Linked DNA regions of Homo sapiens: all the other regions are linked to region 1. Evidence: fine-mapped expression QTL. A gene starts in region 1. Each other region holds a variant in brackets. All regions are shown on one strand. Distances are from middle to middle. Region 1 holds the start of SLC6A13 (solute carrier family 6 member 13). Region 2 overlaps CCDC77 (coiled-coil domain containing 77). Region 3 holds the start of SLC6A12 (solute carrier family 6 member 12).

Region 1 (2,758 bases):
CCTGAGATGTAAGCATTATTACCTCCACTTTATAAATAAGGAAGTTGCAGCTCAGAGAGGTTAAATAATGTGACTGCTGCTGCCATATAGCTACTAACTTGCACAGCCAGGACTTAAACCCACTCTGCCCCTGCTCTTTCAGTTCCATCCCTTTGATTACATTGGCTGCCTAGGTTCACTGGTGTGTCTACTAAAAGCATCTTCTAATGACTCTGCCTTGATTTTGCAGAGTGGCCTCTTTTCTGGAGAAGGAGGCAGATGGACTTTTTTCTAAGCCTCAAGCAAAGTTCATGTTAACAGAACTTTCTCAGCAGTAACCTCTTCTGGCCACAGACTCTACTTTGGCTCTGACCCAGAAAATTAGAAAGTCAGTGAACAGGCCGGGTGCAATGGCTCACGCCTGTAATCCCAGCACTTGGGAGGCCGAGGCGGGTGGATCTCCTGAGGTCAGGAGTTTGAGACCAGCCTGGCCAACATGGTGACACCCCGTCTCTACGAAAAGTACAAAAATTAGCTGGGCATGGTGGCAGGCACCTGTAATCCCAGCTACTCAGGAGGCTGAGGCAGGAGAATCGCTTGAAACCAGGAGGCAGAGGTTGCAGTGAGCCGAGATCGCGCCACTGCACTCCAGTCTGGGCAACAAAGCGAGACTCTGTCTCAAAAAAAAGAAAAAAAAAAAAAGTCAGGGAACAGCAGGCATCTATGTTTATCTGATAAATTAGGGAATGAGCTCCTTTCTACAAAGGAGAAACTCAAGTAACTGGTCCCAAGAGGGCTCCTCAGTCCTTTTGGGAAGGTTGTCTAAGGTACTGACTGTGCTGGCCTCCCCTCCCTTTACCAGCTGATGGATCTCTCCCAGTGATGGAAAGCCTTCCCTTCTCCACCCTCCCAGACCCTAGGAGAAACAGTAGCCTTCTCCTGGCTCCCTTAGCCTCATTAGAGCTGCTTCTCAGAGGTAGCATGTTGTGTCTGAAAGGTCATGAGCTGTAGAGTCAGATGAGGCCAGGTTCAAACATTAGTTTTTTCTCATACCAATGTCTGACTTCAGAGAAGTTAATGAATGACTCTGAGCCTTAGTTTGTTCATCTGTAAAAGTGGGGATGATAGATAGGATATACTTAGCTATAAGAATTAAATGAGGAAATATACATATGTATACACACTTAATAGAATAACAGGTACTCAAATTTTTGTTTTCTTTCAGTCCTGTCAGAGTTGATCATTGTTCTCTTTTCTCAGAGAAGAAAGACTTTGTTTTCTTGGAGTTAAATCCAGTTGTCTTTCCTCTCAATCTAGGGCTCTCTCTTTCCAAATCACAGTGTCACTTAAGTCAACAGCCACCCAAGTTTCAGAAAGTCAAGAAAATAGCACATAATCTTTGCATTTGCACACATACATGTCAGAAGCGTACTTTCTAGGCGAGGGTAAGAAAAAAGTCCTTTGGTTGTAAGTCCCATGGATCCCACCAACCTGCAGTCTGAGACGCAGAAATAGAAAAAAAAGAGAAGAAAACATTTCGAACCTTAGTGAAGCTGCTGCCAGAGGTCCAGTCAGGGGAGAAGAATTATCTAAGGGGGAAGGAGAAGGTGCTGGCTATTTAAAGTGTGGTTCCAGAACGCCTCTGTGGCACTTGAAATTCTAAACTTGGCCCAGCCCACATTCCACCCTTGTGCCTCCCCCTCCCCTTTTCTCCCCTCCCCTCCCCTCGGCCACTGGACAACCCACACATGAGTGATTTCGCAGTCTGGGGAGTGTGCACGCCCTGGCAGGTCGGGCCAGTTGCTGGTGAGCTTATGAAGTGTGGTCTCCTCCCCGGAGCTCATGTGCGCTTCCCACCTGGTGAGCTCAGGGTCTCTCTGGAGGGATCCTGCCTCCCACCCCTGTCTCCAACACAAGTGCTCCTATAAATCCATCAAGAATAGGTATTCCTTTGGTCAGGTGCTGTGTAGATTAATTTAAAAATACATTTATCTTACCGTTTCGCAGCTTGCAATGTGGAATGGACGATGATTTAGAACAAAGATACATAGATACAGAACTCTGAGATGTCAGAAAAACTTCCCAAACATACACAGACATTTATACACATATAGAAAAAGTCTGAAAAAATCTTCGCTAAATGATTAATAGTAGTTACATTTGTAGAGTGGAACTGAGATCAGGAGATGGCAGTAAGGGAGATTTTTTCCCCACTTTTTCAATATTGTTTAGATTTTTTAATATGCTAGAATTTTAAAATATTTTTTAAATCAATAGAGAAAAGGAAGTGCCAACGTTTAAAATAAAGCAAAGCCCTAAAGCTGTTATAAGGGAAGGAGCAGGCGGTGAGCGCGAGGCCGAGGTCATCCAGGGAGCTTCGTTTCTCTGCAGGAACAGCCCACAGAGGCGGCTGTGAGAGTAGTTCATTCAGCCTGGAGTCTAGGACAGGGCAGAGTCCCACCTCAGCCATGTGCTGAAGCACAGTACATGTAGTGGAAACCTGCTCAGACTTTGACACCAGAGAGTGTGGGGTCTGAGTCCTACGTATGCCACTGTCTAGCTTGAGATTTCAGGAGATGATGACTAACTGTAAATGGCAGCTGTTATTCATCCTTAAGGGATTATTCACAGTGAGCAGTGAGCCCGGAAGTCTTCTTGAAGGAGACGGGACTGAGAGACCCCTGAGCTAAGCTGGGCTCTGGCCAGACTGTGAGAATGAGTTAGGTAGGGGATGCGGCAATGAGTGAGTGAGGTGATAGAGACATCTTGAGATGACGGA
Region 2 (2,758 bases), 150 kb after region 1:
AAAGATAGCATCAGTGGCTTTATATTCATTTTAAATTTGATATAGTGGGTACTCTGCCTTAATTTCTATTTACTACTTCTGCTTTTGGAGAGGGGAGTGGGGGCAGGGGAAGTCAATATGTTGGTGAGGCTGGCCTTGAACTCCTGGGCTCAAGGGATCCTCCCTCCTCAGCCTCCTGAGTAGCAGGGACTATAGGTACGGGCCACTGCACCTCGCTCTATGTACTGTTTCTTGCTTATTAGAGACTTTTCTGCATCTTCTCCTCCTATCCTATAACTTCAAGGAAAAGATTGTAGATTTGTTTTTGTGTTGTTGCAGATAACAAGGAGACTTTTCTACTTTGTGTGCTTATCCATTTAAATATTCAATGCCATTCTGATTTTTATTTGAAAATAATTATGAGGAGTACCTTTTGAAAATTCAAAAGGCATGAATTTCAGGATTTGGAGATACTTTAAAGAATACTACATTTTAGGCCGGGCGTGGTGGCTCACGCCTGTAATCCCAGCACTTTGGGAGGCCGAGGCAGGTGGATCACAAGGTCAGGAGTTCGAGACCAGCCTGGCCAATATGGTGAAACCCTGTCTCTACTAAAAATAACAAAAATTCGCCAGGCGTAGTGGTGCACACCTGTAGTCCCAGCTACTTGGAAGGCTGAGGCAGGAGAATCGCTTGAACCCAGAAGGCAGAGGTTGCAGTGAGCCGAGATCACACCACTGCACTCCAGCTCCAGCCTGGGCAACAGAGTGAGACACTGTCTCAAAAAAAAAAAAAAGAAAAAAAAAACTACATTTTAAAACATCAGATTCTTTCCAAGAAGCAAATATGATGATGTTGAAGAGGGAACCAGTCTAATCCTGTACTGTTTTTATTTTTCTATTCGTGGCCCGTAATTATGAATTTTTGTGTATTTGATAGGTGTGAAAAAGACAGCATGAACTTTACCCCAACACACACCCCTGTCTGCAGAAAGTAAGACATTTGCTTATTTTCAAGTTGTTAAGAAATCGAGACTTGTATAGCCTTAGTCTAAGCATAGGAACTGGAAAGGTATTGGAAACATATTTCCTAAAGTTTTTTTTCTTTGAGACAGAGTTTCACTCTGTGCCCAGGATGGGGTGCAGTGGTGCAATCATTGCTCATTGCAGCCTTGACCTCCTGCACTCAAGCAATCCTCCC[A/G]CCTCAGCCTCCCAGAGTGCTGTGATTACAGGCATAAGCCACTGTGCCCAGCCTGAGACATCCCCTTTAGAAAATATGAAATGTTGGCCGGGCACGGTGGCTCACTCCTGTAATCCCAGCACTTTGGGAGGCTGAGGTGGGCAGGTCACAAGGTCAGGCGTTTGAGACCAGCCTGGCCAACATGGTGAAACTCCGTCTCTACTAAAAAAAAAAAAAAAAATTAACTGGGCATGGTGGTGTGCACCTGTAATCTCAGCTACTTGGGAGGCGGAGGCAGGAGAATTGCTTGAACCCAGTTGGTGGAGGTTGCAGTGAGCTCAGATCACGCCACTGCACTCCAGCCTGGGCAACAGAGCAAGACTCCATCTCAAAAAAAAAAAAAAAGAAATGTTAAGTAAACTAGTATTTCTCTCACAAGTTTTTAATCACTGGGAAAATGTTTAAGTTTTTCTTCATGCTAGTTGACAGATTTTAATATCTCTGCATGCTTATTTATTACAAGTGAGCACATATATTAACTATAACTCAGAGCTTCTGGTATAGTTTCTCCACTGTACTATTTTGTTATGTTATAAATTGCAGACAACCAAATTGGATTTATTTTCACAGGAGGGTTTCTCTTCTTCTGTACTATTTTTGTTTTTTTTTTGTTTTTTGAGATGGAGTTTTGCTCTTGTTGCCCAGGCTGGAGTGCAATGGCATGATCTTGGCTCACCGCAACGTCTGCCTCCCAGATTCAAGTGATTCTCCTGCCTCAGCCTCCCGAGTAGCTGGGATTACACACGCGTGCCACCAGGCCCGGCTGATTTTTGTATTTTCGGTAGAGACTAGGTTTTGCTGTGTTGGCCAGGTTGGTCTTGAACTCCTGACCTCAAGTAATCTGCCCACCTTGGCCTCCCAAAGTGGTGGGATTACAGGCTAATTTTTGTATTTTTGGTAGAAACTAGGTTCCGCTATGTTGGCCAGGCTGGTCTGGAGTGGCGTGATCTCGGCACTTGAACCTGCCTCCTGCGTTCAAGCAATTATTCTGCCTCAGCCTCCAGAGTAGCTGGGATTACACACGCGTGCCACCAGGCCCGGCTAATTTTTGTATTTTTGGTAGAGACTAGGTTTCACTATGTTGGCCAGGCTGGTCTTGAACTCCTGACCTCAACTAATTTGCCCGCCTTGGCCTCCCAAAGTGGTCGGATTACAGGCATGAGCCACTGCACCCGGCCTGCAATATGTCTTATGGTACTACATTTTCTAATTGTTACTACATGGTCTCCCTTAGTTTATATTCTGTTTTTTTAAATTATCTTTTTCGTCTCTAATGGATTTTATTTTTACTTTAGAGACAAGGTGTTGCTATGTTGCCCAGGCTGGACTGGAACTCCTAGGCTCAAGCGATCCTCCCACCTCAGCCCCCTGAGTAGCTGGGACTGCTCAGCTACTCAGCTGTGCCACCATTCCTGGCTCTAACATGTATTTTGAATCCAGCTTTAAACCATTAGTACTTGGAAGATAATTAATAAAATTATTTACTATCCTGTAATATCAAACTTTCAATTTGTTTTTTTTTTTTGAGATAGAGTCTCGC
Region 3 (2,758 bases), 49 kb before region 1:
GACTCAATAAAGAGACGGAGAACTGACCGCCTCTACTCGCGGGCCATAGCGTTGCTAATCCCAGGGCGAGCCCCAAGCACAAGGGCCCTTAGGGCGGTGGTCAGAAATGAGCCTTACTGTTTCCAGACCACAGGCAGCTGTGGCAGGACCAAGGTGGTCTCAAGGGCTGGGAGAGTGGAGGCTTGCTGGGGGAAGGAGTAAATGAAGGGAAAGCCGGAGGGGCGCAGGGGCAGGGAAGCGAATCACAGAATCCAGTTTGGGCCCAGGATTTGGGTTTCATCAGAAATAGGGGAAGTGCAAAAAGAGAACATGAGCTGGTGAACCGACACTGACGCAACATGATTTTTTAAAAATAAAAATGAAAATAAAAAAGTAATCGGGAGGAGCGTAACTTGTGGTTCAGAATGAAAATCCAGAACGGCAGAATGAAAGCAAGAGCAAGTGAAAAGGACAGCTGGCCCCGAGCCGTGGTAACTCAAGAGGGAACACGCTTAAACTGCAGCAAGAGGGATTTAAGTTAGACTCAGGGAAGAAATGGCCCAGAGGATGTTAGACACCAAAACAAGCTGTACTGAGTTCTCCTTTCTGGGCTACTTTTAAAAGGCAAAGGACTACACACCCCACCCCCGCTGTGCCCTTCCACCTCCAGCTTCGGCTGGCCGCCTCTCCAGCCCCTCGAGTCTCCTCCAAGGCCGCCCACCTGCTTTGCTAAGCCGGGACAGGGGGGTGAGGGGTGGGGGATGGGCCTCATCATACTTCAGTGCCCTCCAGAAGCAAACACACCAATTTCCACACCGGGCTTGGTGCTGCCCAGAGAGCAAATCTTCAAGAGACTAGAAAGTCCAAAGTTAAGTCTGTTTTCAGGAGCTGGGCATGTCGCCAGAGGCCCAGCTGGGGCTAGCAGAGGTGCAGACGAGACCAGAAATGCTGCTGCCCATGTGCTGCTGGGATCCCAGCTCTGTCCCCTTTGCTCCCCAGTCCAGCATAGGAATAGCTCAGACCCTGCACACGGGGGGATGGGACACCCAGCCCCTGCTTCAGTCCACACCCACATACCAACACCCATTCCCATACACACACTGGTGCCATTTCCCGTCACGTCCCTTCGCACACACATACCTGTGTGCATGGCACCAAAACCTGGCTCTCTCTGTAGTCCTTCACACCCCGTGAGTGCCGGTCTCAGCTGGTGGCTGCCTGCAACTCCCCTGAGTGCCCCCCTCGGGTACAAGCACACCCATAGCATCCACCGCCCAAAGCCAAGACAGCTTCCTCCTGGGAGGCGCCTGGCACCCAGCTC[G/A]TCACGCTCAGCCGGCAGGCAGCGGGCAGGAACCCCTCACCTGTGATCATTTATTGCAGTTCCTGGGCCCTCGGGAATGCCCCGAGGTTTCTCCTGTCCACTTCTCCTTCCACCTTGCTGGGCACCACCTGCTTCCCCTCCCCTCGTCAGATGACCACCCCTGCTTTCACCCACTGCCGTGACCAGCTGCCCATCGCTGGACTTTCCTGCTCCACAGGCTAATCACTGAGCTGCTCCCACGCTGGATGGGGCGGAGCTAGGGGGCACCCCTTGTCCTGAGAGTCGTGGGCATCAGACTTGCCCTTTGGCCTGAGGTTATTGCAGGTCCTGCCCCCCGCTGCAGACACGCAGTTCCACAGAGTCTCGCTTCCCAGGGCTCTATCCCTCCAGCCCCTCTGAGCAGCAGTTGGAGACTGCAAAGACAGAGCCAGCCCCTCCACTTCCCGCTCACCTCAGTCCCCAGCACCGGCTCCTGTGGTCAGCTTGGCTGTGGGCATCAGGTCTCCAGGAGAGTCCCAAGGCAGCTGCTTATGGGAAAGCCAAGAGAGCCGGGACCTGAAAGGGAAACTGCCCTCCACGTTCACGCCTTACCCTGTTCCTCCCAGCGCAGAATCCCATGTGACTTGTCCAGGGACTCCCAGACAGAAAGAAGCCGTGTGTGTATGTGTTGGGGCGGGGGCTGTGTGTGTTGGGGAGTGAAAGGACAGAGAAATACCAGGAGCAGCAGGAGGGACTGAGGCCAAAAGTTTGTGAACCGAGATTACAACATCCAACCTCAGGAAGTCAAGTCCTCTGTCCCCAGCGCTCCCACCCCCATCCCACTCCCACTGTGAACCCACTGTCTCCAGACCGGTGCCCTCCCCGTGGGCACAGTCCCATGATGGCCCCTCCAGAGCTGGGCTGAGCTGCTGCTCCCTTGGGCAGGGGAAGGGGCTCAGAGACTCACACCCTGACCTCATCTCCCCTCCTCCTCCTCCTTGCCCTTCCCCCTTCCCCCTTTTCCCCTATCCCCCTCCAGAACCATCTCCTTCCCAGGGATGAGGAGACGGGTATGTGCAGCACAGGGGACAGCCCTCTCTTACCAGAGACTCCAGGCTATAAACTGAGAACCTTGGGAGGGGAGGTGACCTCACTGACGAGGGCAAGGGAGGAGGGTGAATCACACGCTGGAGTTTTCCACCAAGTACCTGCCCTCTGTGGCTTCTAGGCAAGGCCCTGGACCTTCACAACCCTTCTCCTTGGGATTTTCCTAGAGAAAGCACCCAGAGCGTACCTCAAGAAGCAATGTAGAGAGGACCCAGGATTGGGACCAGACAGACCTGAGTTTCTTCTCCTCCTCTATCATGTATCAGTCACGACAGCTAGGCAAGGGTCAGCCTTGGTTTCCCAGTCTGTCAAAGGTAGGTAACAACACAATATCTACTTTGCGGGGTTGCTGTGAGGGTGCAGGGATATCAT

What was found. PIP is the estimated chance that this variant, and not a neighbour inherited with it, causes the effect.
Region 2: its variant is the best candidate, but not a certain one, in a credible set for the expression of SLC6A13 in whole blood (TOPMed, PIP 0.62).
Region 3: its variant is the best candidate, but not a certain one, in a credible set for the expression of SLC6A13 in thyroid (GTEx, PIP 0.62).

Annotation. Positions count from the first base shown.
Region 1 is chr12:261,267-264,024 of GRCh38, forward strand. SLC6A13 (solute carrier family 6 member 13) reads right to left here and starts at 1,570. Exons shown (of 15, transcript NM_016615.5): 1 at 1,523-1,570.
Region 2 is chr12:408,450-411,207 of GRCh38, forward strand. It overlaps CCDC77 (coiled-coil domain containing 77), which reads left to right. Exons shown (of 13, transcript NM_032358.4): 3 at 919-972. The coding sequence starts at 935. Among named protein-coding and RNA genes, the nearest start is that of CCDC77, 8.2 kb to the left of the region's middle. The variant A/G (reference allele first, on the strand shown) is at 1,180.
Region 3 is chr12:212,171-214,928 of GRCh38, forward strand. SLC6A12 (solute carrier family 6 member 12) reads right to left here and starts at 1,987. Exons shown (of 16, transcript NM_001122848.3): 1 at 1,752-1,987. RefSeq lists enhancers at 1-324, 336-385, 1,097-1,868. The variant G/A (reference allele first, on the strand shown) is at 1,301.